2 separate regions of the Homo sapiens genome follow, and region 1 is linked to region 2. The links come from fine-mapping of genetic effects on plasma protein levels. A gene starts in region 2. The other region holds a variant in brackets. All regions are shown on one strand. Distances are from middle to middle.

Region 1 (4,405 bases), 31 kb before region 2:
TATTAGACCTTTGTCAGATGCATAGTTTGCAAAAATTGTCACCCATTATGTAGGTTGTCTGTTTAATTGTTGATAATTTCTTATGCTGTACAGAAACTCTTTAGTTTAATCAGATCCCATTTGTTAATTTATGTTTTTGTTGCAATTGCTTTTGGCATCTTCATTATGAAATCTTTGCCCATGCCTATGCCCTAAATGGTATTTCCTAAGTTGTCTTCCAGAGTTTTTATAGTTTTGGGTTTTACATTTAAGTGTTTAATCCATCTTGAGTTAATTTTTATATATGGTCTAATGAAGGGGTCCAGTTTTAATCTTCTACATGTGGTTAGTCAGTTACCCCAGCACCATTTATTGAATAGGGAGTCCTTTCCCCATTGCTTGTTTTTGTCAGATTTCTCAGAGATCAGATAGTTGTAGGTGTGCTGTCTTAATTCTGGGTTCTCTATTCTGTTCCACTGGTCTGTTTATCTGTTTTTGTACTTACCAGTATCATGCTGTTTTGGTTACTAAGCCCTGTAGTAATTTTTCAACTAGATTAAGCATTTTTTCAACTAGATTAAGATATCCATAATAATATTAGTATATAGACCCACATTTGAACAAAGTACTTAATGAATTCTGCTGAAACTTTAGATTAAATGTGGGCAATAACATATAGATTTATAAAACAGAATCAATTTTGATTTATATTTATAAACTATCAAAAAGAAACAAATTTAGTGTAGCAAATTTAAAAATTATATTTTACTGTTTTACATATAATATCATGGTTTAAAAATGATGAAATCACTTTAAATTGGAGGAATTTCTCATAGATTAATGCCAAAGTTTTCTTTTATTTTTTTCCCAGGCTGGCCTCAAACTACTGAGTTCAAGCAATCCTCCTATCTCAGCCTCCTAAGTAGCTTGGATTCCAAGTGCACACCACCATGCCCAGCTTCAAGATTTTTTTTTGCCCTTTCCATTTGTCATATGTTAATCAATATGTTGCTTTCCTCCTTGTCATTATTCCTTGTTAACTGACAGTGATCTCATGATCACCTTGAAATGTTTTTTAATATCCCCCAAGCATTTAAATAATTATTTACTATGTCCTCACAGGTTAGATCATTCTTTTTCTCCTTCAGATAATTGTGCCAGGCTGTAGAGTTTAAAGATCCATCTCCGTGAAATAAAGTAATAAAAAATAAAAGTTAAATAATCATCTGTCTCTCTGGCATCTATACTATACTATTTCATCCTTTCCTCATCTTCTTGTTTTTGACACTTTTGGTGGACCTTTGCTCTTATTTTCACAAACTTTTTTAAATTCTGGGATTTAGCATATTGTTTCACTTACTTCCCAGGAATCTCAGGTGGTATTGTGGCTTTAGGTGCCGTCTATACAAAGATGATTTTCAAATCTTTATCTCCATTTTAGACTAAATCCCTCCTTATATATTCAACTGTCTTCTCTATGCCTACACTTTCAACATGTCCAAACTGAACACCTGATTTAGTTCTAGCAACCATATAACATACTCTAGTTATCTATTTATTTTCTTTCTCTCTTTCCCTTTCTTCCTTCCTTCTTCCCCATCCCTCCCTCCCTCCCTCCTCCTCCTCCTATTCCTCCTGTTCCTCCTCTTCCTCCTTCTCCTTCCTTCCCACCTCCCTCCTTCCCTCCATCTTTCTCTTTCTTTCTTTTTCTTTCTTTCTTTTTCTTTCTTTCTTTCTTTCTTTCTTTCTTTCTTTCTTTCTTTCTTTCTTTCTTTCTTCTTTCTTTCTTTTCTTTCTTTCTTCTCTCTCTTTCTGTCTCTTTCTCTTTCTTTTTCTTTTTTCTCTTTCTTTTTCTCTTTCTTTTTCTTTCTTTTTTCTTCCTTCTTTTTCCTTCCTTCCTCCCTCCCTTCCCTCATTCCTGCCCTCTCTCCTTCTCTTCCTCCTTTCCCTCCTTCCCTCCATCCCTTCCTCCCTTCCTCCCTTCTTTTCTTCCTGTTTCAAGTTGAGGTTACCAGGCACAGTGGCTCACACCTGTAATCTCAGCACTTTGTGAGGCCGAAAAGGGGGGATCACCTGAGGTCAAGAGTTCAGAACCAGCCTGGCCAACATGGCGAAACCCCATCTCTATTAAAAAACAAAAATTAGCTGGGCATGGTGGCATGTGCCTGTAATCCCAGCTAATCTGGAGGCTAAGGCAGGAGAATTGCTTGAACCCGGAAGGCAGAGGTTGTAGAGAGCTGAGATCACGCCATTGCACTCCAGCCTGGGCGACATGAGTGAAACTCCATCTCAAAATAAATAAATAAATAAATAAATAAATAAATAAATAAATAGAGACATGCAGTGTATACAATACAGCACACAAAATCTTAATTGCATAGCTCATTTAATTTCTAAACATGTGTATACCTATGTAAATAGCACTCTAAAGGGCTCCTTCATGTTCACCCAACCAGGACCCTTCAAGGTTTAATCCATTTCTTGTCACCATTTTTATAATTATGGGTTTTTAATATAATAGAAACAGCCGGGCGCAGTGGCTCATGCCTGTAATCCCAGCACTTTGGGAGGCTGAGGCAGGCAGATCACGAGGTCAGCAGTTCAAGACCAAGATGGTGAAACCTCGCCTCTACTAAAAATACAAAAATTAGCCGGGCACGGTGGCAGGCGCCTGTAATCCCAACTACTTGGGAG[G/A]CTGAGGCAGGAGAATCACTTGAACTGGCGGGATGGAGGTTGCAGTGAGCCGAGATCATGCCACTGCACTCCAGCCTGGGCAGCAGAGTGAGACTCCATTTCAAAAAAAAAAAAAAAAAAAAAAAAAAAAAAAATATATATATATATATATATATATATATAGAAGTTGATAGGACTAAGTCACTATGTAATTTATAAAGACATATTCTAAGCCTGACTACCATTGAACTAAAGGTTTTAAATGTCACATTGTCAAAAGTGAACACATTTTCATGAATACAGAACAAGTAATCTACCTAAGAGCTTTATATAAAGGAAATATTTATTTTCAAATTAAATGTCCAGTTTGAATATATTTTTCATTCAAGCTATGAGCTAATTTTAGTTTTCATCAGGAAGCAGAATTGTGGTAGTGCTTAAAAGTATAAGACTTTGAGTCCTACTATATCTGTACTGAGTACATGCTTTGATGTTCCTTGGCTGATTGTATCTGGGCAAAGTACTTAATCTTCCTATCCTTGTTTCCTCATCCGTAAAATAAAGAGAAAGGAATATTGGGAGGATAAAGTGCAAAAATGAATATAATCGTCCCTCAGTAGCAATGGGGGATTTATTCTAAGACCCTTTGAAGATACGAAAATCCACTGAAGCTCAAGTCCTTTATATAAAATGGTGTAGCATTTGTTATGACCTACACACACCCTCCCACATACTTTAAAACATCTCTAGATTGCTTATAATACCAGATACAATTTAAATCCTATACAAACAATTGTTATATTGTATTTTTTAGGGAATAATGACAAGAAAAAGTCTGTGCATGTTCAATACATATGCAACCATCTGTATAGTACTTTTTTCCTACTATTTTTGATGATCAGTGGTTAGTTGAATCCATGGACGTAGAACTCACAGATATGGAGGACCGACTATATAAGGAATTCAGCATGGCCCCTGGGATACAGTATGTTTTCTAATTAACTTCTGCAGTGCTAAGGGGAAGCAGAGAAGAAAATTAAAATGTATTGAGTATCATTAGTACCTCTTACTCTTGAATATCTTACATACTTAACTTAAAAAAGAAATCTACTTAATTTGAAATAAATCAATATCCAATGGCATTAAAATTTTAACATGTAAATTAGGGGTATCTTATACAATCATATTTCTCAATACCATGGGGTTTAAGATCATTCTCATTGTTTTTATATGTGGATGTGTTTGGATTTGTGTGCCACATACATACACACACTTATATAGTTTTCCCCTCTACCTACTATTGAAAGGGACAGAAAGTCTAAACTTTCAGTCAATTAGTACTGGGTATCCTTTGGCTCATAGAGACTTTTTGCATGCATACTAACAGAACTTTCATCTCCTCTGTAGCATATCCCCTTTTGTTACTCTCTACTCCAGCCTCTTTCACAGCTCTGGGATGCTAAGGACTCTGATGCCTGGGAACTCTGTGAGCACACTGCCAATAGTTCCAGGTCTCACAAATGAGTTTCTGTTTTGGGCTCCCCGGATGCCTCCCATGGCTGCCATTGCCTCATCAGCCCCCACTGCCTTTGCCACTGGCCACCAATGCTGCAGTGATAAAGATGGACACTTCATATGAGCAGCATGAAATGGTGTTTTCTGAAATTTCCTCTAACTTAAAGTCACACTGTGTTCCTTTAGAAAGTCGTAAGACAGCATTTCCGCCCTTTGGTGTTACACTGTATCATTTTAT
Region 2 (4,405 bases):
TATGATTTTTACTTTCTAATTATCAACTACCTGTAGCTTATTGGTTACGGGTGCATTCTTTGGAAACCATCAGGTCTGGGAAATCTATGCCAAGCTTCAGTGTTTTTCTTATGTAAAATGTAGATTTTTATATCACAGGTTTTTGCTTTGAAGACTGGAAGGGACAATGTATGTAACACCTCTAATACAATAAACACATTATGCACATAATACAAATAAACGGAAATTATTCATGTTTTTATTATCTTTTGCAATGTCTGCTAGTTTGTTGAGCTCATAAGAGCTTTCTATAAACATATGCTGTTTGATTGAATTGCTAATTACTAAGTGTTTAAGAGACATGTGTTTCCTTCCAGGTGTTATAGGAAAATACAATCAGTATAATCTAATTCGAGATTCACATGTTCAAGGCCTGGTTCTATTAGACACCTTCTGGCTGACTTTAGGAAAATGCTCTAACATCTGGGCTGTTGTATCCTCATCAGCTCATTGAAAGCCATACACAGGAGCCTGAAGAGTTTTGTATAGCTCAATCACCCAGTGTATGCATCTGATGAGCCAGAATTCTATAATAGGCCATGATGCCATACTCTCCTCTTTGCTGCTCTTCTCTCTCATAACCTCAACCATCTAACCTATACTCATCTTCATTGAGTCAATGAAAGCAATGTCACTGTTGGTGAGAGTATATTCAAGGAAAAATATTTTTTTCTATTCCATATAATTACATTTTATTCCTTTAAACCCATATTGATATATAGTTGAAAAGTTGGCTACCATTTTTTTTCTTTGCTACTTACTAATGGTGAAGTACTGTGCTCTTTCTTGCAGGTGTTTTAAGATCAGGATGACATGGTTTTCCTAGAGTGTCTTTAGGAGGGCCATGGTGTATAATTTTATAACCCTAGAACAAGGAAACAAAATATTTAAAATAAAGATGTGAAGAATACCCTTATAGATGGTATCTATAATCTTTGTCACAAACTTAAATTTTGACTCAATTGTTTAGTATTGTTTCTAATAATTTACTGTATTTATTTGATTTCAGCGTTAAGACCATATTGTCCTTCTGAGGTCAGATTGTATTTCAACGCCCTGATATTTCCTTCAAACACTAACAAAAAAGTGGACTTCTTGAAGTTCAGTAACTACTAGTTGGCTAACTTGCTTGGAAAATTGCAACCTTTTTTCAAGACTCCCAACCCCTTATCTAGGACTTCAACCCATTCTTTAAAAGATCATTTCCATAAGCAGTGTCCCACATGGTAAGTATTAACTACGTGGATTTGGGGGTAACAGCTTTGTCTCTTCATTTTTTTTTTAAATTCTGGAAGCCAATAGATGATATAAAGTCCAGCAGAGTCAATGACCCCAACTCTAATTGTTATTACAGTTTCTAATAACTGTACATTCAAAACATCAATTAGAAACTAAGAGTCTTAATTTGACTTCGTAAAAAGCAGATTGAGAAATGACTTCAGGCTTCTACTATGATTCAATGGGTCTTATGTACTTAGAATGATTTCTCTTTTAAGGTAGGTAAAGAGTTTCAATAGACTAAACATAGAGAAGCATGTTGAAAGTTATGGTAGGTCGGCGCTAAGCAACAAAATTGAACTCTCAGTCTGCCCGGCATTAGCTATGTGCCCTCCAGATGCCGGAAGAGGAGCGAAGGAGGATCAGAAACCCCCTCACCTCAACGATGGTTCTCTCCCCTGTGCTTCACCCCACCTCCCCGTCCCTAGCCATTTCTAGTCTCCAATCCGGGTCTTACATTTACCCTGGCTCCAGAGCACAGACCTTCCTGCAGTTGGGCCGGCGCGTTGCGGCGTTGAGGAGCTGCGGCGCGCCCCTCTCACCGCGATTGTTCACTTGCCAGGCGCCACGTGTGGGCGACGTCACTGGGCTTTATGCTTTCATCGCCGCTATCTGCCTACGTGAGCTGCTCTCCTCCCATCGCCCCCGCCTCCCCTACTACGGAGAAAATCTTGCACGTTTTCCCTTGTGAAAAGCAGAGTTCTCTTTTTCTCATTACCACCAGTTGATGAGGAAAGAAAATGTCTGTTCGCATACCTGCGCCGTACTAGGAGGAGGAGGGAGGTCATATAAGGATTCGGGTTGCCCAGGGGGTGGCTTGAAAAAGGAGGCGTTCGCATTCAAACAAGAATGCCTGAATTAATGTAGTTCAATTTAAAGAGCTAATTAGGAGTCCACAGGTGCTTAAGTTTGCAGTGCGCTGCCAGTGTCATGCCAACGACGCACTCCAGTTACACAGGTTGTCAGTTTCAGGCTCCCTCATAAACACTTCATGTTCTTGTCCCTCTTCCCCGTTGGCAACAGTTTTATGGTGAGAAAATTCACGAAGAGTAACAGGAACAACTCTTATGAAAATACGCAGAACTCCTGACCCAAGGCTACTGGCTGCAAGTTTAGCATACGTATCAAGCATGGGTTAAAGACATGTTTTCTCTCTCAGAAGGCGGATGAGTAATAGGTGCATTTTCTTCTATTCACAGTTGTTTTCAAAGCGAAAAGGAGTGAATTCGCTTATGACCTAGAGGAAGAGAGATGGGTCAAAAGATGTCAAGCCAAGGATTAATATCCGTCATACCTTGGTTCTCTGTAAGCCATGCAATAAGAGGCTTGAGATTTCACCAACTCTGGAGACTCACTTGGGCACAACTGAAACTATAACAAACTTGGTGCTCAGTGCCATTTTCCTTTGGCAGTGTTACAAGGTAATTTCAAGGGATCAGCACACAGACATTGTTTTAGTTTTCTTTTGCTGCTTATTTCAGTTCATGCAGCACTGACTAAAAATTTTGGAATTTAGACTGCTTAACGCTTATATCTACATCCAATATCAAAATTCATTACTGACAGTTTGCCTTTCTAAATATTTATGAAATCTAGTCCTCAATCTGTCCCTCACTTCTATATTCATGTTTTCACCATATCTTGCTTAAGTTATTAATTGGACATTTCAAATACCTATATGCACAAAATCTCTGCCTACCTATTTGTTCTTTCTTTCTAGTGCCGAACAATTCATTCTCAGCACTATAATAGTCTATCATTTACTGTGAATATCTTATTTTTCATTTTTGGAGAAGAGTCATTCCTGTAATTATTACTTGTTCCCATATTCACATTGATGATATCAGAATGAGAGCAACTTGAGCGCTGTGGTGCCAGATATTGTTGGTGAACCTGAATTTCAGAAATTGGCTATGTCTGTCTTGATTATTGCTGTATCTCCAAAACTAACACAATACCAAATATAGGTGGTAGTTTGTAAATATTTGTTAAGTGAGTAAATATTGACCCGACATAGATTCTTAGAAAATACAGAAAAAAGGACATAAAATCTCTTTCTTCTAAGACTCATAGTACTATGAGAGAAAGGAGTATGTATATGAATAAGTAAAGAATACTATTAGGTAGTGTAGTTTAATGCTAAGTAGGGCGACCAAAAATATATACAGTAATTGAGAGTTCTGTGAGTTGATATGATCTGGGTAAAACCTAGGAAAGTTTTGACATTTGAACTGTTATTGAATAATGCGTATGGCTTGATTTGAAGGGAGAAAGAGTTGAAGAACAAAAGCAGATAAATCATTATATCACAAGGCATATTCAAGACAGAAAGACTGTTGAAAAGGTTGGGGAAACTTTGTATAGAAGTCTAAGGAGATTTGCTTCTCTGTATAACATGGGAAAGTAATTTCATTGACATTTTGGAGGGTTGGGAAATTCTTTGATCAAAAGAATGTTTCATAAAAGCCACCTGATCTCACTGCATGGGGTGATTTACAGAGCTGAGAAATTGATGGCAGCAAAAATAAGTGTGGTAACAATTCCCCAGATTAATTTTGTAGTAGTAGAAATAGGACAAAAGGGTGGAATATGAAGAGATTTTTAAAAAGTGTTGATAGATTTTGTATGAAGGGCAAATCCAGAATAGAAGACTTGTAAGTTTGGTGCCTGAATGTGTTGGAGAGCACATGGAAAGTAGATCTCCATTACTGAGAGGAATAGTACAGGTACTTCTAAGAACATTGCCAGGAGTCCTTTGCTTTTCTAGAAGGGCATCATTTGTTAGTTCCTTTTTCTATGGTTTGGAGTAAAAGAAGCAATGATTAGAAATGCATTCCTCATAGTAGGCTCTATAGCAGATTCTACTGTATAGGATATAGTTAAATACCAGACTTTAAATTCTCTTGTGAAAATTATGATAGAATTGGCTGAATAGAGAAGTATCTGTGCAGCTGCTGGCACTTGTGGCCTATGGAGAAATACATCAGATGAAGACTATAGAGATTTAGCTGTAGAGGATAAATGAAGAGATTGCTTAGTTAAGTAAGTAGACTCTTTAGCTCATTTTTTGATCTATTTAATTTTAGGT

Alleles and levels. Alleles are on the strand shown, and positions count from the first base shown. The strength of an association depends on the size of the effect and on how common the allele is.
In carriers of allele A in region 1, the plasma level of the protein whose gene starts at base 1,843 in region 2 tends to be higher than with G alone (moderate association).

The links. PIP is the posterior inclusion probability: the model's chance that the variant is causal. The UK Biobank Pharma Proteomics Project read protein levels with antibody pairs (Olink). The fine-mapping took linkage between variants from a reference panel, not from the people measured, so its PIPs are less certain.
Region 1: its variant is fine-mapped to the plasma level of the CRISP2 protein (UK Biobank, PIP above 0.99).

Annotation. Positions count from the first base shown.
Region 1 is chr6:49,680,889-49,685,293 of GRCh38, forward strand. It overlaps a transcript of CRISP2 not described here. Among named protein-coding and RNA genes, the nearest start is that of CRISP2, 30 kb to the right of the region's middle. The variant G/A (reference allele first, on the strand shown) is at 2,674.
Region 2 is chr6:49,711,701-49,716,105 of GRCh38, forward strand. It overlaps CRISP2 (cysteine rich secretory protein 2), which reads right to left and starts at 1,843. Exons shown (of 10, transcript NM_003296.4): 1 at 1,775-1,843; 2 at 801-904.